Regions from separate parts of the Homo sapiens genome. Here regions 2, 3 and 4 are each linked to region 1. The links come from fine-mapping of genetic effects on gene expression. A gene starts in region 1. Each other region holds a variant in brackets. All regions are shown on one strand. Distances are from middle to middle.

Evidence for each region. PIP is the estimated chance that this variant, and not a neighbour inherited with it, causes the effect. A credible set is the group of variants that fine-mapping cannot tell apart.
Region 2: its variant is the best candidate, but not a certain one, in a credible set for the expression of GDI2 in whole blood (TOPMed, PIP 0.87).
Region 3: its variant is the best candidate, but not a certain one, in a credible set for the expression of GDI2 in whole blood (INTERVAL, PIP 0.82).
Region 4: its variant is the best candidate, but not a certain one, in a credible set for the expression of GDI2 in whole blood (INTERVAL, PIP 0.70).

Annotation. Positions count from the first base shown.
Region 1 is chr10:5,810,039-5,815,831 of GRCh38, forward strand. It overlaps GDI2 (GDP dissociation inhibitor 2), which reads right to left and starts at 3,396. Exons shown (of 11, transcript NM_001494.4): 1 at 3,176-3,396. The coding sequence starts at 3,220. LOC124902367 (a long non-coding RNA gene) reads right to left here and starts at 3,159. Exons shown (of 2, transcript XR_007062041.1): 1 at 2,277-3,159; 2 at 1-1,918. RefSeq lists silencers at 2,677-3,216, 3,357-3,626, 3,687-3,866 and enhancers at 2,818-3,410, 3,411-4,003, 4,067-4,166.
Region 2 is chr10:5,704,464-5,710,256 of GRCh38, forward strand. The region is part of intron 1 of TASOR2 (transcription activation suppressor family member 2); the gene reads left to right. Among named protein-coding and RNA genes, the nearest start is that of TASOR2, 23 kb to the left of the region's middle. The variant G/A (reference allele first, on the strand shown) is at 3,023.
Region 3 is chr10:5,858,103-5,863,895 of GRCh38, forward strand. ANKRD16 (ankyrin repeat domain 16) reads right to left here. Exons shown (of 8, transcript NM_019046.3): 8 at 3,514-4,589. It also overlaps the pseudogene RPL12P28. Among named protein-coding and RNA genes, the nearest start is that of TRV-TAC3-1, 7.2 kb to the left of the region's middle. RefSeq lists enhancers at 4,335-4,384, 4,685-4,754, 4,955-5,084. The variant A/C (reference allele first, on the strand shown) is at 2,646.
Region 4 is chr10:5,769,141-5,774,933 of GRCh38, forward strand. It overlaps GDI2 (GDP dissociation inhibitor 2), which reads right to left. Exons shown (of 11, transcript NM_001494.4): 7 at 4,702-4,801. Among named protein-coding and RNA genes, the nearest start is that of GDI2, 41 kb to the right of the region's middle. The variant C/T (reference allele first, on the strand shown) is at 2,495.

The DNA.
Region 1 (5,793 bases):
CAAGAACTCTCAAAGAGCAAATCAAAGATTAAGCAAATCCAAGAGGCAATCTGAATTTTAGTTCAGAATTTTAAAATCAAGTATAAAACCTTCTCTGAATCTGAAATCACAAAATTCTGATAAAGAGAAATGAGGAAAAGTATCTGGGATGTAAAGCAAGTTTTTAAACATATGATGCTGAGAATCATCTGGTATACATCACTAAAGTATATATTTCTATTCATAAATTCTTACTGTGTAGAACAAAAAATGGGAAGAAAAAAACCTCTGGGAAGCACAAACAGCTGTGGAACTAGTTACTCTTATTGTTTTAATCTACTATGTCTAACAAGACTCGTGAATTTATTTCCAAGTCCATAGTGAACTATGTGCAAATTATGTGGTGAGAGGCTGCCTACACATGCTGAAAGCAGAGAAAAGTAAATGTTGCCAGCCTAACAGTAAAGTAAGATAGAGGGAAAAAATATGAAGAGTAAACTGAAGAGCTCAAAAAGCATAGCAGCCTGAGAGTAAAGGGGGCAAAAGTTCCTACAAAGCTGGCGGGGTCTTCATGGCTTCACCATGTTACAGCATAACACAATAGTTAATCTTCACTATGTGAAAACTTGGTTATCAAGTAAATTATGTTTCTTAGTTTGTTAAAGAAGTTGTGACAGCATTTAGAAAGGCATTATCCAAAAGCTGTGCTCTTTAGAGATAACCTTTAGTTCCTCAGAAAATTCAATTGTGTGGAATATTCCATTTCTTTTACACACAGAATGAAGATTTTACTCCTTTATACCAAATCGTTTTGTATCTTCTTGATTAAGATAACTATCAATATTTGTGATTATGAGCTTAGACTTAACAACTCATACAAACAATGGCAGCACTAAGCAACACAGCAACTCCAGCACTTCCTTACACTTCTTTAAAAGTAACAAGTTCCTAACACTGAAAGTACTTGCCTTTTTTTAGGTTCTTAAGTCTCAGGCACTAAAGTAAATTTTAAGAAAATTAATTAACTCCAGACATTCAAAAGTTAATTCTGAGTGCTAACTTTGGTTTTCTCTTCTTCTAATTTTTAATCATCTAATTCCTGGTAACACTAAAAATAAGGATATATGATTTCTCATTATCAAAATCATCCTGTCATCACTACTCCTATCAATGATGGTAATAATGTGATTGTCCTGAATTGATATAATTATCAAAGAACATCTCAGAAAACTTAGGAAGGCTCACAGAGATTAAAGTTATCACAGCTACAAAATGACAGCAGAAACAGGTCTGATTTCTAGTTAAGTATGCATCTACCATTCATCAAAGAGTTCACAATCCGAATGAAAATTTAAACAAAGCTCATTATCTTAACTTGTTATATAAAAACACTTTCACCATCTTTGATACAAAGTGATGTGAACGAGGCTTGTGGAAGCCTGCATGATGGTGGATTTGCACTCACTCGTGCATGCTTAACTGACCTCAATTGTGAGCAAATCTGAAAGACCAGCAACAACCATAGAAAAACGGTGGAACTAACCGGCTCTTAAAACACGCTGGCAGCAACACTACCCATTCCAACAGGCAAAATCCACCACAAACTACTAAGCTCAGCTTGGAATCCCAATTAGGCACTTAAAAAAAAAAAAAAAAAAGCACAAAACCTGCAGTGGGTAGGGCCTATTCATTTAGGCATCCAACAGTCTTCCAGCTTTTCAAAGACAGACACAGGATTATTCCTGGATTGGTCAAACATAACGAAGTATTCAGAATGAATATTCTCTAATAATTGCATATAACTATAAACAGAAAAATGACAGACCAGAAAAACACGATTCTAATTCTTCACAAACCTTTCCTAAAAAATTAGCCAAATAAAAGTTCGAAGGTTTTCTCTTGCCTAGAGACATCTAAAAGTGTTATTTTGGGATGTTACCTGTAAAAAAAAAAAAAAAAATTGGTTTGACCCTGAGAGATTATAATAAATTTCAAAAAATTTGAAGTGGAAGTCTACATTAAATGACTCAGGAATTTGAAGTCAGAGTACATAGGATACACAAGATTTACATCAGTATTCATCTTAATTATGATCAAGCAGCCCAAAGTTAGAATTTCAAATTTCCCCAAAAATTGATAGTTAAAATGGTTTTCTCCAAAGTGAATTCTTTTGCAAGATGAACATTTAAAAAAAAAAAAAAAAGAACAGAAAAAGTACAAACTACAGAACCTGCCTGCGTTATCTACAGATTACCTAAAGTTCCCTTAGAAACAGATAACCAGGAAAATCAATATACCATGATATTAGGTACACCTTGCATTCATATATTACAATGCATTCTTCATGTTATTATCTTCCAACTCCCTGAAGAAAGCTTCGGAGTACAGAGAACTTGGCTTTTAGCAATCCATCACCAACCCAATTCTTAGGGGAAAACAGTCCAGAAGAGACAAAGGAGGCAGAGAACCCACCAAACAAAAGGAAAAGGCGGCGAAGGTCAGGTGCGAAAGCATTTGACGGACAAGTTTTGAAAAAACTCAATTCCAATTCTACAGATGCTCAGTAAGTGAGAAGGGAGGGTGGCTAAAAGGATTCAATAATACTTCTCATTAGCAGGGGGGAGAAAGGATTAAAAGACTAATTTCCACGTTTTCGCCAAAAATATAAGTTAATCAAGCCCTAGCAGTTCCGAAGCAGTGATTATCCAAGACTTGTCAGGAAACCCCGTACTCGGCTTTGGCAGCCAGACTGACCCGGGGCAGCGGCCGAGGCGGAATAGGAAATGCAACCGCGAGGCCTGCACCGTCCCCTCCGCCTCGGGTGCTGGTTTCCAACCGGGCGAGGTCACCGGCCCAAACCGGGGAGCGGGACCCTTGGCCCGGGCGGCCTTCTCCCCTCCCCTCCGCTTCCGCTGGGGGCAAGCGCAGAGGCCGGGCTCGGCCGTCACCCCGCCCCGAGCCTCACGGCCCGCATCTCCATTTCCCCGCCTGCCCCTCACACTGGGAGCCGCCCGCTCGCCCCGGGACGCGGGGCGCCCCTGAACCCGCCCGCGCCCCTAGCCACGACTCCCGTCCCGAAAACTACGGCTGACGGCAGAACGAGACCCCCGAGGAGCTGCGACCCGCGGGCCGTGCAGGAGCCGGGGGTGCGCCCGCCCCGGCTGCTCAGCCCCGGCCCCTCAGCCCTGGCGCCCACCGTCAGGCCGGTGCCCAGCACGATCACGTCGTACTCCTCATTCATGGCGGGGCAGGCGCGGACGCAGGACCCGAGCAAGGAAAAGGCGCAGGGGCTCCGTGACCACCCTACGAGGCTGGGAGGCGCTCTTGGGCGCGAAGGAAAGGGGAAGAGAAAGAGAGGAAAATGGAGCTGGCGACAAGGCGAGACCGACCGCCACCTCAGACGGGAAGAGAAGAACTGGGCGGGGAGAGGAGGGGAGGGAGCGAGGAGGGGAGGGCTGTGACTGAGCCTCCGCAGCCGGGGCGGGGCCTGCAGGCGCCGGGAGGGCCGCCAATCAGGCGCTCCCGGCACTCTAATTGGTTACGTCCCCGTCGCTCGCACAACTTTTTTTCCTTCCCCGCCTCTCGCGAGAGGAAAAGGGCGGGGCGTCGCCATTTTGGCTTCCGGTTCCCCTTGCGGCCTCTGCCACGGTGGTTCGGGAGGCGGCGCGCGGGCCGGGGTGGAGGTGCACGGAGCCGCGGGCGGGGACTGCTGGCCACCACCGTTCTGACTCCCGCCGTCGGGGCGGGAGCTCGCTCGGTCCAAGGTCCCAGAGCCGGATCGCCGCCCTTGGACTTTGAGCGGGCGCGTGCGGCGGCCACGTGGGCGAGGAGCGCGGGCCGGGCTGCCTCTCGGGGGTGGCGGCCTTGGTTCCTCCCGCGGGGCTGGGCTTGCCGGGGCCCGGAGCCCGCCGGGAAGAGTTCGGAAATCACACGTGTCCTTTTTCCCGCTCTGTGCCCTCCTTGTTTAGTGCGTTGCCGGTGGGCGCTTTAGGAAATTGGTAGGAGGAAAAGCGGCTTCTTTTGAAAAGGTAACCCTTAACAGAGATGAAAGTGAAAGCCAGGTTTCATTGGGAAGCCGATCTGCACCTACCGAGGGCTGTAACTTAAAGCCGCTGTAAACGTGGTAGCTGATCCTTGTATGCAAAGGTTTAGGCCCTAAGCTTAGAAACTGTTCCTTGCTTGCCTTCTACCCCGCTCCTCTTTTTCTAGAATTCTCTTAGGAATCTCTGGCTTCATTGAGGACACAGGTGTAAGCAGAAGCTGTGTTCTCAGCTCCAAGAGGCCGACCCCACGAAAGCCTAAGCAGGTGAATTTCGTAAAGACGTTGACAGTTGGAAAACCTGTGCTTTCAGCACGTGATAAATCTGCAGAGTCAGCAGACAATGAAGATTTGGCATTCAAGAACTCCTCAAATACTTCTCGATAGTAGCTATTCAGAGCCTGCCTTGATAGACCGAACTTGCTCATATTTAAATCATTAAGATAGAGGAAAGAATGTAACAACTTTTTAAAATGTTTCTTACCCCATAAATACTTGAAGAAGATATGTTATATTGGACCATGGATCTTTCTGGGGGGGAGGGGAGAAGAAAGCAAAAGTAAAGTTTAAATTTACATTCAACCTTAATTTGATTGTATATATTTGTGACCAAATGAATTAGTGCACAGTTGACCATACAACTGATTATGCAACAGTGAGTGTAACTGACTTTTCTTTTGGCTAAGCTAATGATGACTAAAGAAGGTCCTTCTGTTGCTCTGTCTTCAAGTCATCAGGGGGTCATACTACCTATATTTTTGAACCAATATGAAATAACCCTTTTTCTTTATTTTTCTGAGACAATCTCACCCTGTCGTCCAGGCTGGAGTGCAGCGGTGTAATCATGCCTCACTGCAGCCTTGATCTCCTGGGCTCAAGCCATCCTCCCACCTCAGTCTCCCCAGTAGCAGGGACAAGAGGTACAGGCCACCACACCTGACTATTGGCCCTTTTTTTTTTATTAGCAATAACAATAAAGAGCTTTTTTCACAATTGCCATCAGCCTCTGGCTCTTGAAGAGAAATTTAAGCATGTCAACTGAATTATGTTAACCATGTTTTAGGTGAAGACTATTTTATCGATACTCAAGAGTTGTGAGAAACTTGAAGACACTGAGATAAGGGAATTGAATTTAAGGCTAATAAGGATCCCTTCCTTACTTAACACTGAAGTTCATTTTAGTTCACAGTACAGGCCCTATGGCCCAACAGAAGGACAATAACAATCAAACCTGGACTAAGCCTTAACGGACTGAGTGCATCTAAAATGTTGTACCTGAGCCAGGCACAGTGCTTCACACCTGTAATCCTAACACTTTGGGAGGCTGAGATGGGAGGATCACTTGGGGCCAGGAGTGGGAGATGGGAGAATCACTTGGGACCAGCCTGTGCTGTAGAGCCTAGGTAACAGAGACACTGTCCCTATAAAAAAAATTAGCTGGAGGCCGGGCACGGTGATTGATGCCTGTAATCCCAGCACTTTGGGAGGCTGAGGTAGGCGGATCACAAGGTCAGGAGTTTGGAGTTTGAGACCAGCCTGGCCAATATGGTGAAACCCCATCTCTACTAAAAATACAAAAATTAGCCGGGCATGGTGGCACGTGCCTGTAGTCCCAGCTACCCGGGAAGCTGAGGCAGAGCAATCGCTTGAACCCGGGAGACGGAGGCTGAAGTGAGCCGAGATCGCGCCACTCCACTCCCGCCTGGGCAACAGAGTGAGACTCCGTCTCAAAAAAAAAAAAAAAAAAACTGGGCAGGCTGGGTGCAGTGGCTCAC
Region 2 (5,793 bases), 110 kb before region 1:
ATAAATCACACTCCTTTTTATTTGTAATGTTGGTTTTCAGTGCCTTGTTTTGTCCTTGATTAATTTGACTAAAGATATATCAATATTTTTTGTCAAAAAGCTAATCTTTTTTCAGCTATTTTTTCTTCGGTTTAATTAATATCTGATCTTCTCTTTTTATTTCCTCCTCTTATTTGCTTTGGGTTTACTGTGTTGTTCCATTTTCTGAGTTCTTGAATTGACCGTAGCTTATTGATTCTTTAAATGTTTTTCTTTTGTAGTGTATACATTTGAAATGAACAGTTTCTTATAGCTATTTTAGATAATATCTTAAGCTTAGATCATGTTACTCTTTAACTTATGAACCATTTATATGTAGGATTTTTAAAATTTAAATTTCCAAACATGAGGCTTTTGAGATTAACTTTTTATGGTTACATTGTCATTTTACTTGATTTTGGTCAGAGATCAGTTGTTTTTTAGTACTCTTGGAATTTCCTTTGTGGCCAAATTCATAACCATTAGGTTTTGTTTTGGGGCTTTCAGCTCAACTTCATTGAGGTCTAATTTTCATACAATAAAATGAACATAATTTAAGTATATAGTTCAGTGAATTTTGGTAAATGTATATACCATGTGATGACTACACCAATAAAAATAGTGTGTGTCCATCACCCCAGAAAGTTCCCTTGTGCATACCCCACTTGTAGTCAATTTTCCTATTCCTGCCCCCTGCTGTAGGCAACTAATGAAATGCTTTTTATCACTATAGATTAATTTTGCTGCTTCTTGAACTGTATATGTATAGAATTTTACAGTATGTACTCTTGTGTCTGATGACTTTTGCCCAGTTTAATGTTTTGAGATGCATGCATATATCAGTTTTACTTTTTTTAATTGCTGATTATTATTATGTGTGAATATACAAGTTTATCCATTCACCTATTGATGAATATTGGAGTTGCTTCCAGTTTTAGGCTACTGTGAAAAAGCTGCTCTGAACATTCATGTGCAAGTGTTTTTGTGGATATGTTTTATTCTCTTGGGTAAATATCTAGGAATAGAATTTTGGGTCATATGGTAAGTATGTGTTTATAAGAAACTGATGTTATTTTTTAAATTGGCTATATAATTTTTCAGTTGGCTTTATATTTCTACTAGGAGTGTTCCAGAGGCTCCTCATCCTTGCCAACGCTTGGTATTTTCAGTCTTTTTAGCCATTCTACTGGAGCAGTAGTATTTTATTGTGGTTTTAATTAGCACTTCCCTGATAACTAATAATATTGACCCATTTCCCATGTTTCTTTTTATTATATGCTTTATTTTGTGAAATGTGTCTATGAGTTTTTTATATATTCTAGGTACAGGTACTTTACAAATATTTCCCATTTCTTAATAATGATACCTTGGAAGATCAGATGGTTTTAATTTTTAGGAAGTCTGATGTATACATTTTTCTAGGTCACTAATTTTGTGCCCTATGAAAACTTTATGTACCCCATAGTCAAGTACATTTTTTCCTATGATTTTTTAAATTTTATAATTTTAGCCAAATAGTTATAGTTTTTATGTTTAGGTCTGTGATTCATTTTGAGTTAAATTTTATGGTTTAAGGTAGAGGTTTGAGGTTCATGTTTTTTTCCTCCGTTTTAGTTGTTCTGTAGCAGCATTTATTGCAAAGATATTCTTTCTCAATGGAATTATACTGGCAATATTGAAAATCTGTTATCTGGACTCTATTCTGTTCCATTGATCTATATGCATTTTCTTTGTATCATTACCACCTTGTCTTGACTACTTTAGCTTTGTAGTAATTCTCAAAATCAGGTAGTGAGTCCTTCAGCTTTGTTCTTTTTCAAAATTGTTTTGGCTTATATCTTTCTTATATAAATTTTAGAATCAGATCATCAGTTTCTGCAAACTGAGATTGTGTTGAATCTGTAGATCAATTTTGTGTCTTAACATCCCCCAGCAAAGTTAGAAAGCCAGGCAGTAATATCAGAGGGCACAAGCCCAGATTGAAGCTGGAAGACATAGTGCTCCAGAAAGGTCCTTCCAAAAAAAAGAAAAGAAGCTGCTCAAAACAGACAAAATCTTTGATCTATCTTTATCCAGAGGATATTGTTAGTTCTCTAGAATTTCAAGCTGAAATAATGATTGGTAACTGAAAATTAAGCTATTTTAAATTCAGAAAAGCAAAACACGGTATAAGGAAAGAACTTGACTACACAGTATGGCTCAGCAATGATTAATACATACAGTTAAGTAGTGAAACCTAGGCCTAGCACGGTGGCTCATGCCTGTAATTCCAGCACTTTGGGAGGCCGAGGTATGCAGATCACTTGAGGCCAGGAGTTCGAGACCAACCTGGCTAACATGGTGAAATCCCATCTCTACTAAAAATACAAAAATTAGCCGGGCATGTTGCTGGGCACTTGTAATCCCAGCTACACGGGAGGCCGAGGCAAGAGAGTTGCTTGAACCCGGGAGGTGGAGGTTGCAGTGAACCAGAATCAAGCCACTTACGCTCCAGCCTGGGCCACGGAGCAAGACTCCGTCTCAAAAAAAAAAAAGTAAGCACCCAACAAATGTTAGCCATTGTTATCATTAATAACAATAGCTTCCTTGCTAACAAATACTAGGATAACGTCTCTATCCATGGCAGCAAAGAAAAAAGGAATTTGCTAAGTTATCTGATGCCAGTGCACCATGCCTCATGCACAGCAAGCCTTCAGTAAAGTTCCTTGTAGAGTCACAACTGAAAGGAGCTTTAGAAAGGCAATTATAACTAAAGGAGGCCTTAGAGAGTATAAATTTAACAAAATCCATCAGTTAGTATGTCTTCAGCTTCCAATAAAAGTTTAAACAATAAGGAACATTTATTATTTCATGTATAAAGCCCAAAGATGAGGCAGCCCCCAGGTTAGTTTATTTCATCAGTTCAGGGATCTAGTTTCTTTCTGTTCTGTTCCGTTCTATGTTGGCTGCCATCTTGGTTGCAAGGAGATCCAGGCAACACATCTTCAGACAAGATCCTAGGCTA[G/A]AAGATGGAGTCCTTTTCTAAGAAAGGTTTCCCAGAACTCTCTCTGTAGACTTCCATTTATATCTCACTGGCCAGAACTGAGTCACATGTTTATTCCTAAAACAAACACTATTCAAAGGGAGTGGAATTACCATAATGATCTTAGAGTAATTAAGATTCTCATTCTCTTTCTCTCTCTCTCTCTCTCTGTCTCCCCCCCCAACCCCACACACACACATACTCACTCTCCCTCACTCATTTTCACACACACACACACACACACACACACACACACACACACACACACACACTTCTTCTGAACCATGGGATAACCTGATACCTGAACAAAATTGTGGTTTTATGGAAGGGAAGTAAAAGGGACATGATTGTTGGGAAGTCAATCCAATGTGTCTTTAACCACTGTCTCAAAACACATTAGTGGTAGCACCTAGTGAGTTCAATAGGTAGACCAGAACCCTGGTCTCCCTATTCCTAATTTTCCCCTACATAAACAACCTCCTTCATGAATTATTATCAACATAGCTACTTTTCCTAAAAAATTTTGAATGTATCCACACAATTCTACCTCCAGTTCTTTTTGGGGGGAAAATGTGCTGTAAAACTATACATGCTGTTTTTGTGAAGCATATGAAAATCCTTATTCCACAGACTCATGATAAAAACTGAAAACTTGACCACCTTTGTAATCTTTTTCTTCGTTCTTATTCTTCTCTCCCTTCTTCCCTTAATCAGTCATATTAAACTATTTGCAGTTCCTTTAATGTATCATGTTTAAACCGCTGTTCATTTGCTCATACTATTTCTGCTATCTAGAAAATGTACACTAGTTTCCTTTTTTGGCTTCCTCATTGGAATATCTTCCAGATTTCAAGTATCTGTGCCTCCATGAAATCTTTCTTGACATAGCTCCATCTCCATAAAATTGGTTGTATCACTGTACATCCACTATATCATGTTTTAGATACTCCTACACATTTATAGTACTAATTTCTTTGCAGATTTTTCTTCCTTGTCTATTCTGAGCTAACTTGCTTGCTTTCTCTTTCTTTCCTTTCTTTCTCTTTCTTTCTTTCTTTTTCTTTCTTTCTCTCCTTTTCTCTCTCTTTCTCTATCTCTTCCTTCCTCCCTCCCTCCCTCCCTCCCTTCCTCCCTTCCTTCCTTCCTTCCTTCCTTTCCTTCCTTTCTTCCTTCCTTCCTTTCCTTCCTTTCTTTCCTTTCCTCTCTTTCTCTCTTTCTGACATGGTCTGGCTCTGTTACCCAGGCTGGAGTTCAGGGGTGCAATCTCAGCTCACTGCAACTTCTTCCCCCCAGACTCAAGCCATCGTCCCACCTCAGCCTCCAAAGTAGCTGGGACTACAGGTGCACTCCACCATGCCTGGCTAATTTTTGTATTTTTTATAGAGGTGGGGTCTCACTTTGTTGCCCTGGCTGGTCTCAAGCTCCTGAGTTCAAACAATCTGCCTGCCTTAGCTTCCCGGCGTGCTGGGATTACAGGCATGAGCCACCTCGCCCAGCCTAATCTGAACTTTTTTAATGTAGAGCCTGTTTCCCTGTAATAGAGACTGTTTGCCATTTGTCTTGATAAATCCAAGATTTAGCATGATATTGGATGCATAATAGTCACCACTAATAGTTTTGTTTAATGAATATATATACAACTAATTTGGGGGAGGAGAGAGATTTTTGTAAATTGTGTTCTGCTTGATTCCGTTATTTTCAACTAGTGGAATAAAGATGTGGTTCTGTGATCTCTTCATTTTGAAAGATTTTTTTTCAGTAAGGCAAAAGCGATTAAGCATAATATATTTCTGTGTACAAAATTTTCTTTAGAAGTTAAAGACTTTTGGAGGAAAAACATTTCAGATTATGTGTTATAGCTTATAGAACAAATTAAGTCCTTAGCTGAGAATACTTGTCAAAGGAGGTAAATAAATATTACATAATTATTCCTAATACAAATTACTCAGCGAACATTTGTTTCTATAGTAAATATGCTATAAATAGAATTGTTCACTTTATGATTTTTTTTCTTTCTTCATTTTAGCATTTATGACATTAACAGAGAACAGGACTATGTCAAGAATTCTGAGGGTATACTTGGTGAAAATGAATTAAGACCACCCTCCCAGCTACATTCTCTCTTAGAGAAGATCGAGACAGGGTCCCTATCAGAAAAGAGTGGGTATTAAACTAAGTGCTATAAGTCATAACTAATGAATCCAGAATAGAATGATTAAAATGTTTTTAGTTTTAATTTAGATCATGTAAAACAAAAAGACTTTAAAAAATTATGATTTCCAGTACCTATATTTTTTAAAATAATCATTAGTCCAAAAGTAATAGGTGATTAACTTTTCAAATTGCAACATAAAACACGTATGTTCCTCTGTTGTGATTGAATTTAACCTTTCTCACATGCTCTTTATTCATCACTTAAGCCCTAAGGGATATACTTAATGCTTTATAGGCAAGCACTTTTCAAGTTTTACCGTCTTAGATTTTTAGGTTTCTTTGTGGTATAGCCCCCTCTTCATTTTCATAGTCTGGTAATCTTGAATGTTTAAATAAAGCTTGAGCATTGCTCAGCAGTTATGAGACCATTCATTCATAAAGTGTTTGTATTGTTTGGTGCACTGATTGGACTCTCAAATGAAAGTGTATTTTGTAAAGAAGGGAGAGCGTCAAATTTCTAGATGAAATTTTCATCTGTCTCCTCATTTACTGAACAGGAAACTTGTGCTTTCTTGAGAGTGTAATTGATGTCATTATGA
Region 3 (5,793 bases), 48 kb after region 1:
AATAAACTTTGGTTTAGTCCACTGTTATTTTTTGGTCTTTATTTAGAGACAGGGTCTCACTCAGTCACCTAGGCTGGAGTGCAGTGGTGTGATCATAGCTCACTGCAGCTGTGAACTCCTGGGCTCAAGGCATCCTCCAGCCTCAGCCTCCCAAAGTGCTGGGATTACAGGTGTGAGCCACCCCACCTCCATCTAATATTAAATCACAAAATGGAATTATCTAAGTCTGTATCAGCTGGAAGAGAGGAAAGGATGTGGTAGACCCAAGGCTCTGTGTTCAAGGGACAGGACGAGCCACAAGCTGGATTTTGTTCCTACGTCTTTTGCGTTCATTTACCTTTTAGCTAATCGTGGATTTTCAGCAACACTGGGAAAAATAAAGACCATGCATGTTGTAGGCTGGCACAGGTGGAAGCTCTAGAACTCTGAGAGCTGCTTTAAAGGTACCACATACTGTAATCTAAATAGAAACACCCTATCATATCCAAGGAATCTGTGCCATCCCACTCCCAGCATTGTAGTGAGTGCCTGTGTATGCCTGTATCTACTCACAAGAGCTCTTTTTTTTTAAAGGAGCTATAAAGGAGATTATTTCTGCTGTGCTGTAGTCTGTTTTTTTTTTTACTTGTAAATGTATAACCCAAATTTTGTCATTATTTGAAATTATGTGTAGAGCTAATTTACCCAATATAAAAATGACTCTTACAAATCAACAAGACAAAACAATGGTCAAAAGATGAAGCAAGAACTGGTTTCATTAATGGCCCCAATCAATGGCCTCTGTGTCCAGTCTGTGGGTTCTGCCCCCTACACTAATTCTGGGCATGACCATGCCTTGCTTTGGCCAATGGGATGGAAGCATCTACACAAACAGAGCGGAGACTGGAAAGCACATTTAAGTCTCTTTTCTCTCTTGAATCTCTGCCACTGTCATGAAAAATAAGCCTGGGCTAGCCGAATGGAGAGACCATGGGGAGCAGAGCCAGCTTGATCCACCCAAGGCCATCCTATACCAGCTCAGCAACTCACTGGCTGACGGGACGCAGGAGTGAGCCCAGTTGCGAGCAGCAAAGCCACCCAGATGCCCTACAGACTCCTGTTTCAACCCAGTGAGCTTTGGGGTGGTCTGTCATTTAGTAACAGCTAACTGATACAGGTAAAAATAGGAAAAAGGGCTATAATGGCCAAAAAAACAAATCTAAAGATCTTCAATCTGATTGAGAAATGCCAAGGCCGGGTGTGGTGGCTTATGCCTGTAATCCCAACACTTTTGGAGGCCAAGGTGAAAGGACTGCTTAAGGCCAGGAGTTCGAGACCAGCCTGGCCAACACAGTGAGACCCCCCTATAAAAGTGGAATCTCTACATAAATTTTAAAAATTAGCTGGGCGAGCTGGTGCGTGCTTGTGGTCCCAGCTGCTCAGGAGGCTGAGAAGGGAGGATTGCTTGAGCCTAGGAGGTCGAGGTTGCTTGAGCCTAGGAGGTCAAGGCTGCAGTGAGCTATGGTCACACCACTGCACTCCAGTCTGGGCAACAGAACAGGACCCTGTCTTTAAAAAAAAAAAAAAAAAGAAATGCAAAATTAAAATCATGAGATAGTACATCATGTTAGTGGCCATTAAAAGTGTGATACCGTGGCCAGGCGCAGTGGCTCACGCCTGTAATCCCAGCACTTTGGGAGGCCGAGGCTGGTGGATCACCTGAGGTCAGGAGTTTGAGACCAGCCTGGCCAACATGGTGAAACCCCATCTCTACTAAAATACAAAAATTAGCTGGAAGTGGTGGTGTGCGCCTATAATCCTAGCTACTTGGGAGGCTGAGGCAGGAGAATCGCTTGAACCCAGGTGATGGAGGTTGCAGTGAGCTGAGATTGTGCCACTGCACTCCAGCCTGGGCGAGAGTGAGACGCCGTCTCAAAAAAAAAAAAAAAGTGCGATACCACACAGCTTTGGTGATGGGTATGCCTGGGAAGGAATCTTGGCAAAAGCGATGTCTGTGGTGCTCAAGACCCATCCCAGCCTCCTGGGCATGTGAGCCCCACACTGCAGACACAGGGAAGTTACCAGCTACATGCCCCAGGCTCCCCTAGGTCCAGATTTTGAGATGTGAGTTGGATTCTGCTAATTGCTTGAGTTTCGGAAAGCAGAAGCGAAAGCCGTATTTCTGCTTCCACTGGCAAAGGCTGCAAGTGATTTTCTGTGGAGTGTTTTCTGATCATTTGGCCTCTCGACTGTAGCAGATGAAGACAGCAAGCTTCTGGAGTTGGAAGCGAAGGCAGCAGCTTCCTATACTGGCAAAGATTTTCCTGATTGAAAAGGCACTTCTTTTTGAGGCCTAGGTCTGAAGTACAGCCCTTGATATCGTCCCTGAAAGTTCAACGAGATTTGTTCTCGAGCCTTCCTGACAATTCTGCATACCATCAGGACCCCGTAACAAATCTTCTGCATAAGCTGGCTCCAATGAACGCTAGTCTCTGCTAACTGAACTGTAGCTGATACAGTTGGCAACCTAAAAAAATGGACAGATCCTTTGATCCGCTTCTAGGAATTTATCTTCCAGTCATTCCCATAAGGACACAAAGATGTGTCCGGCACTGCTGTTTATAATAACTTAAACAACCCCAGAATGTCCTAAAATGTCCAGAAAT[A/C]GGGAACAGCTTAGACAAATTGTGGCACATCTGAAAGATGGAATGTCAGAAAGAATGCAACATTATGCAAAGTTAAAAAGAATGAGGTAGATCTTTAAGAACTAATGAGAAAATGAAAATAACAAAACAAAAAGAACTAATGAGAAACAATGCACTCAGTTTAAAGTTGCAAGAGTGTTATATGATCCTATTTGGAATAATCTTTATTTGTACTGTCTGAATTATTTTTCCCCAGAAGCAAATATTTTAGAATATAAACTCATTAAAAATGAAATAAAGCGCATGAGTGTTACATCATATATAACCTTATTCAAATCCATGGGTAATTCCTTGAAGGCATACCATGTGCAGGAGCTGTGTGCAGCCTTCTGGGGTTTGTAAGGTGCGTAAGATACAGTAACTGACCCAGGCGGGGTGCGGTGGCTCACGCCTGTAATCCCAGCACTTTGGGAGGCTGAGACGGTTGGATCACCTGAGGTCAGGAGTTTGAGACCAGCCTGGCCAACATGATGAAACCCTGTCTCTACTAAAAATACAAAAATTAGCCGCGCACGGTGGTGGGAGCCTGTAATCCCAGCTACTTGGGAGGCTGAGGCAGAAAAATCACTTGAACCCAGGGGGCGGAGGTTGCAGTGAGCCGAGATCGTACCACTGCACTCCAGCCTGGGCGGCAGAGTGACTCTGACTCATAAAAAGAAATAGTAACTGACCTCCAGGGATGCATGACTCAGTGGCCTTGACTACCACTTATATAAATAGTTCTAACATAAGGCGAACCATGGGATAATTGCTACAAAGTGCAAAGCAGGAACAGGGGCGGAGAAATTAATTCTTGTGAACCTGGAAGACATCTGACGACTCTGCTGGGTGTGGATGAAGAGATTATGCCAAGAGCTAATTTTTATTAAATGCTTTTTCTATTCCTGGGTTCTTTGAGAATCATTGACATTTATTATTTACTACACATCAGACACGGTGTTAAGTGGCTTAGATGAAATGTCTTTTTTTTTTTTGGTTATCAGATAACCCTTTGTGAAAATATTTTCCTTTGCATTCTTTAACTAGCTGGGCATTCCACAGCTTCACTGTTGGTATCATCTGTGATACTATCAACATGGCAGCTCACAGACTGGGCAGGCCCCAGGAATTCTTTTTTTTTTTTTTTTTTTTTGGAGACGGAGTCTTGCTCTGTTGCCCAGGCTGGAGTGCAGTGGCGCATATTCGGCTCACTGCAAGCTCTGCCTCCAGGGTTCACAGCATTCTCCTGCCTCAGCCTCCTGAGTAGCTGGGACTACAGGCGCCCACCACCATGCCTGGCTAATTTTTTTGTATTTTTAGTAAGAGACGGGGTTTCACCACGTTAGCCAGGATGGTCTCGATCTCCTGACCTCATGATCCTCCCGCCTCGGCCTCCCAAAGTGCTGGGATTACAGGCATGAGCCACCGCAACCGGCCCCCAGGAATTCTTTAATGGTTCCAGAGAGTTCTCTGGCTAAAGACTGCTGCTGCATCTGTTAGGCAATGTTGACAATCTCATCAGAAGTGGTGCTACCACTGTGTTTCATGTTTTTGTGTTTCTTTCTTTCTGTCGGTGGTTCCTGAGGGTTGTGACGATCAGGGCAGAGGCAGAAGGCACCACCTCAATCTGGGCCTGTCTGCTGTGGCTGGTCAGTTTCACTATCATCCTCAGACTCTTCCAGTCAATGGTTGGTGATGTCATCAGCAACCATTTTTGGAGACAGACCCAGGGAGCTGACCTTGGGGGCCAGTGCAGATGTGGCACTGACTTCACCACTGGTACACCTCAGATATACAACTTTGATCTCGCTGGGGTCAAACGTAGGTGGCTGCGGTTGGTTGAACTCAGGTTCAGGATGACTGAAGCAAGTTGCACTTGGCTTTCTCTGAGCCGAAAAACGAAAGGTGCTCAGGCTCCCAGCAACTCTGTGAAGAAAGAGTTATTATCATCTCAGTTTACAGATGAAACAGAAGCTCAGAGAGGGCAAGCAGCTAGCACAAGGTCCCACAGCTGGACTCAGGGCTGCTGGCTACAGGGCCTGGCTCTACATGCTGCACAGTCAGAGAGGGAGAGTCCCATGCGCAGTTGGAAGGGAGAAGGGAAGGGGAGGCTGGCGCTAGATAGTAACAAGCTGTGTGTTTTGGGCATTTCCCCTGTACCAGACACTGTGCTAAATGACCCTTCTGCTCTGTTTGCCTGGAAAAGTCCCCATCTTAGTGAATTCTGACTTTCCACCTACTGTCCCGGAGCAGCTGACTGTGGTGGAGAAAACTGCAGGACAGGGACCCTCAGCTGCTGCTATACAGCCAGTGATCCTGCCACGTCCCTGACTCCATGGGCTTTCAACACGAGGCCTCCCCAACGCAGTGTCCACACCAGCATTACTGTGGAACTTGGGAGACATGCAGATCCCACAGGAGAGGGAAGGGGGAGCTGCTCTCAATTCAGATCAAGTTTCCCCTGTGCCAGAAGAATCAGTCCTCCAGATGGGTGGGCAGCACTGGGCCTGAGGTGAATGTTACTGTGCTGTACGCTCACAAAGTTAGAGGGCAGAGCTCATATTAAAGGTTCATACTGAGAGGTGAAGCCAGCTGGACTTCCTGGGTCAAATGGGGACTTGGAGAACTTTTCTGTGTAGCTAAAGGATTGTAAATGCACCAATCAGCACTCTGTAAAAATGTACCAATCAGCGCTCTGTGTCTAGCTAAAGGATTGTAAACATACCAATCAGCACGCTGTAAAGTGGACCAATCAGCACTCTGTAAAATGGACCAATCAGCAGGACGTGGGCGGGGACAAATAAGAGAATAAAAGCTGGCCACCCCCTGCCAGCAGCAGCAACCCACTTGGGTCCCCTTCCACACTGTGGAAGCTTTGTTCTTTTGTTCTTCATAATAAATCTTGCTGCTGCTCATTCTTTGGGTCCACACCAACTTTAAGAGCCATAACACTCACCGTGAGGGTCTGCGGCTTCATTCCTGAAGTCAGCAAGACCACAAACCCACTGGGAAGAACAAACAACTCTGGATGCACCATCTTTAAGACTGTAACACTCACTGCGAGGTCCACGGCTTCATTGTTGAAGTCAGTGAGACCAAGAACGCACCAGAAGGAATAAAGTCCGGATAC
Region 4 (5,793 bases), 41 kb before region 1:
GAAATTTTTGCATCAGAAGACACTAATCAAGAGTTGAGGCAACTCACAGAATGAGAGAAAATATCTGCAAATAAGGGATTAATATCCACAATACATCAAGAACTCCTAAAACAACAACAAAAAAAACCCTGATTCAAAAATGATCAAAGGGCTGGGCGCGGTGGCTCACGTCTGTAATCCCAGCACTTCGGGAGGCCAAGACAGGCGGATCACCAGAGGTCAGGAGTTGGAGACCAGCCTGACCAACATGGAGATACCTCGTCTCTACTAAAAATACAAAATTAGCTGGGCACGGTGGCGCATGCCTGTAGTCCCAGCTACTCGGGAGGCTGAGGCAGGAGAATCGCTTGAATCTGGGAGATGGAGGTTATGGTAAGCCGAGATCACGCCATTGCACTCCAGGCTGGGCAATGAGCAAAACTCCGTCTCAAAAGAAAAAAAAAAAAAAAATCGAAGGACTTGAATAGACATTTTTCCAAAGAAGATATGTAAGTGGCCAATAAGCACATGCAAAGATGTTCAACATCACTAATCATAACTTCAGTGAGCTACTACCTCACAACCGTTAAGATTGCTACTATCAAAACAAAATTAAGTGTCAAGGATATGGAGAAACTGGAACTTCTTGTCCACTACTGACAGGAATGTAAAATGGTCCAGCCACTATGGAAAATGGTATGGCAGTTTCTCAAACATTAAAAACAGAATTACCATATGATCTAGCAATTCCACTTCTGGGTACACACCCAAAAGAACTAAACGCATGGTCTTGATGAGACATTTGTACACCCATTTTCAGAGTAGCATTATTCACAATACATTCACAAAAACATGGAAGCAATCCAGGTATCGATGAATGGATAAGCAAACTATGGTCTATCTTTCCATACATTGGAATATTATTCAGCCTTAAAAAGGAAATTCTGACACATGCTACAACACAGATGAACCATGGACATCATGCTAAGTGAAATAAACTAGTCACAAGAAGGCAAATACTATATTATTCCGTTTATATAAAATATAGTAGTTAAAATCATAGAGAAAGAAAGTAGAATGGTGCTTGCCAGTGGCTGGAAGCAGAGAACGAGGAGTTATTACTTAATTGGTAGTTTCCTTTAGAAGAGGAAAAGTGAGTGTGGGCACAGTGGCTCACACCTATAAAATCCCAGCACTTTGGGAGGCCAAGGTGGGTGGATCATTTGAGGTTAGGAGTTCAAGACCAGCCTGGCCAACATGGGGAAACCCTGTCTCTACTAAAAATACAAAAACTAGCCGGGCGTGGTGGTATGCATCTATAATCCCAGCTACCTGGGGAGGCTGAGGCAGGAGAATCACTTGAATACGGGAGGCAGAGATTGCAGTGAGCCAAGATCATGCCACTGCACTCCAGCTTGGGCGACAGAGTGAGACTCCATCTCAAAAAAAAAGAAGAGGAAAAGTGTTATGGAGATGAATGGTGGTTGTGGTGGTTGTATAATGATGTGAATATATTTAATACCACTGAACTGTACACTTAACAATGGTTAAGATGGTAAATTCTGGCCGGGCGCAGTGGCTGACGCCTGTAATCCCAGCACTTTGGGAGGCCGAGGCAGGCAGATCACCTGAGGTCAGGAGTTTGAGACCAGCCTGGCCAACCTGGTGAAACCCCATCTCTACTAAAAATACAAAAATTAGCTGGGTGTGGTGGTGGGCACCTGTAATCCCAGCTACTCAGGAGGTTGAGGCAGGAGAATTGCTTGAACCTAGGAGGCAGAGGTTGCAGTGAGCCAAGATCACGCCACTGCACTCCAGCCTGGGCAACAAAGTGAGACTGTCTCAAAAAAAAAAAAAAAAAAAAAAAAGATGGTAAATTTTATGGGTACTTTATCACAAAAAAAAAAAATGGAGGGAAAAAGACTAATATTCAGTGTCTATAATGTTTTAAACAGTATATTAATGTAATTTTCCCTTGAATATAATCTGTTATCTTCATAATCTAATGAATATAAAAGTCAAGGTAATTATTAAACTGTCGGTAACTACTGAAACTAGCTTTGCCAATTATCCCTACTATTTTCTCCTTGAACAGATATATGAACTGTAAATCCTGTTCAAATACTAGGAAAACTGTGTTGCACAGTATTCAGAAGTATAAGTTTTAGAATTGGGCAGATCAGGGTTCAAATCCTGGCTCTACCTAACCTCAAAGGATTGTTGTTAGTACTAAAATTCAGCCACGTCCAGCCCCTTGAATGCAAGGACATTTTTGCTTATTTGTGGTGGCAGACATCACGAAATTATGCACAGACCCTTTTTCCAGCTATCATTACTGTTAGCATATTTTATGTGTGACCCAAGACAATTCTTCCTCTTCCAATGTGGCACAGGGAAGCCAAAAGGTTGGACATTAGTGAACTAAATGAAATGGTGTAAAAAAGTCTGTCATTATAGGTGGGTGTCCTGACAAAAAATAAATGCTCAGTAAATGTACTCTACATAGACTAAAATC[C/T]TTATCATCTTAAGGCTATGCTTCCTAAGAAAAACTTGAATTGCAAGATAAATGTATTATAGCCTCCTTCCCTTTCATATCAAAGCCCTGAAGTTTCAGAAACACAAAGAATGAAACAAAAGAAAAATACAGAATAAAAGTAACTTTCAGAAGACAGATTAAAACATTTATCCCTGGCCGAGCGCGGTGGCTCACACCTGTAATCCCAGCACTTTGGGAGGCCGAGGCAGGCAGATCACGAGGTCAAGAAACCAAGACCAGCCTGGCCAACATGGTGAAACCCCATCTCTACTAAAAATACAAAAATTAGCTGGGCATGGTGGCACATGCCTGTAGTCCCAGCTACTTGGGAGGCTGAGGCAGGAGAATCACTTGAACCCGGAAGGCAGAAGTTGCAGTAACCAAGATCGTGCCACTGCACTCCAGCCTGGTGACTGAGAAGAAAAAAAAAAACACACCATTTATCTCTATCTCCTAAACAACTATTATGCTGAAAGTACAAGCAGTGTTACTGTCCCTGATGAAGATCTTCCAGTGGAACACGATGTGGAGATGGAAGACAGTGATACTGATGACCCCAACCCCACAAAGGTGGCTGAGTGAAGTTTGTTGGACCTGGATGGTAAACAGTGCTATTTGTGCTGATATACCTGAGAATTAAGTTAGCATTAACAAAACCTAGTAATGTACATGTCAAACAAAATATGACTTCTTTTGTGCTTTGTAACTTCATTTAAAGCAGATAAGCCAATCACACTACGACAGTCAAGATGAAACAGGGTTATAAAGAAGTTGCCTAAAATATATGTTCAAAAGACCCAATTAAGTAACAGTCTAGAAGGCCAGGCACAGTGGCTCATGCCTGTAATCCCAACACTTTGGGAGGCTGAGGCGGGCGGATCACTTGGGGCCGGGAGTTCGAGACCAGCCTGGCCAACATGGTGAAACCCCATCTCTACTAAAAATACATAAATTAGCCAGGCATGGTGGCATGCATCTGTAATTCCAGCTACTCGGGAGGCTGAGGTAGGAGAATCACTTGAACCTGGAAGGTGGAGGGTGAAGTGAGCTGAGATCACGCCACTGCACTCCAGCCTCGGCGACAGAGCAAAACGATTTGATGTCTCAAATAAATAAATAAATAAATAACATTTTAGTAGATAAAACACACAAATCTAACATCACCCAGCACAGGAATTTACATCCTCAGGTGTATAACGACTGAGGGCTGTGGGTGCGGAACACCTTAATTCCAATTCTACCTCAGCCATTCATTAAACTGTGTGCCCTTGTAGATGTTTCTTCATTTAAGCCTCCAGGTATAACCTGGACATAATACCCGCCTCTTAGGATCCTTGTAAGGAATAAATGAGTTTGAAAATGTGCTTCACAAATTATTATCAGGCGTTTTTTGCCCCAAGTCAGTCCTGTATTTTCTCTCCCTTACTCATTGTCCCCTTACACCACCTACCAAACTCTGATCTCAAACTTTCCAGTGAGACCTAAATAACTGAAGATGCCCCCCACCCCACCACCCAGGAGGTTGCTACATTCCCACACAGCTTAATGTTAAAAAGATAAAGCTTAGATTTTTAGAATTCCAGTGAGACAGTAAAGCAGTGCACTTTGAAGTGCATCCTCTACTGCAAGAACTGTTGCAGATAGTAACAGTGTCAAATGGCAGAAGAATTAATTCATATGGTGATAAAGGGAAACGATCTTTTTTTCCTTGTGATTTTTTTTTTCAGTAGCATCCACATCACCTAAGAGGTTTCAAGAAAATGCAGAGCCTTCTCAGACCTACTGATTAGAACATGCACTAGAACCAGATTAATGATGCTTTATATATAATTCACATTTGAGAAATGCTGCTCAAAACCCCACCCGTGTAGGTGGCCTGCAAGTACAGTTCAATTTCAATGAAAATTTGGGAGACAGGCACAACCCAAACTCTATAAATACAGAATACTTACTATTTAGAGCTCACCCATAATGCATATTTCAATATTAAAATAATCAACAACTGACAACAAAAAAGATGCTTTTAAAACAAAGCACAGCAACTGTAATTAGTCCTTAGTCACAATAAATACTAACTTCCCATACAGAAATCATATGCATCAGTGTCCACACCAAAATCAATATTTAGAATACACAACTTTCTTCACAAGAACATAGTAATTTTTTTCATTTTAAAAGCTACTTACTTCTCCTTCAGATTTTACACCAATTACTTTTCCATTCTGTACAATGATTTCTTCAATGGGTTTATTCAGCATATAGGTACCTCCATAAATAGCACTTAGCCTGGAAAATTTTTAAAATCCCAATTAATAATATATAGTTGTTTCAACTCCTAAAGTCCCCTTTCTTAGATCTTAATGAGTTACAGACAATATACATTTGTTCAATTTCCTTCTAGAAAGATGTCAGCTTAGAAGTGATTAAAGCAAGAAAACAGAGTCAAAAACACAAACATAATCAGTTATAAATACGAAGTCAAAAAAAATCACTAACCAGGCACTTGTCTTTCGAGCTGCCCACTCGGCCCTCCTCCAAGTGTACTTTCTTTCCTTCCTTTCATTCCTGCCCTAAAGCTTTTCAATAAACGTCCACTCCTGCTCTAAAACTTGCCTCAGTCTCTCCTTCTACCTTATGCCCCTTGGTCATTCTTTCTTCTGAGGAGAAAAGAACTGAGGTTGCTGCAGACCCGTACGGATTCATCTCAGCACGGTAACATATTTTGGTGCCTGTGACTCGGCTACCTTCCACCAGCAACACATTTGGTGCTGTGTGACTCGGATACATTCCCTAGTAGTAAGAGACCTCTACACCTCATTTTCTTTGGCTGGAGGCGTTCAACCCCCATACACGGTTTTCTTCTCCCCTTTCCACTCTCCCGCTTGCTAACCAATCACCGGAACAGTTCCTCTCGGCCGCAGCGGCTCTGCATCCATAGCTTATCCCTCCTCGCTCACCCTGATGGATGGCTCTTCGGGGTCCACACTGAGCAGACCTGAGACACTAATGGCCCTCCTGGACAGGAGGCTCGTGAGTGTGGTGAGGCTAAAGCCTAAAGCCATGCGATGTCTGGGTTTTACTCTGCTTCTTCAACTAAAATCGGCTCTTTCCCAAAACCCCACACTGTCTATTCTCCTGTTTTTCCTTGTGTGTGTGTTCTAAAATGGCCTTGTGCAGTCGCGGGACTATCCACATCAGAGGCAAATCTGCCATTTCTCTGGATTCACACCCAGGGGAAGGGGAAGGGCAAGGGCAAGGGCAAGGCCAAGGGAAGGGTT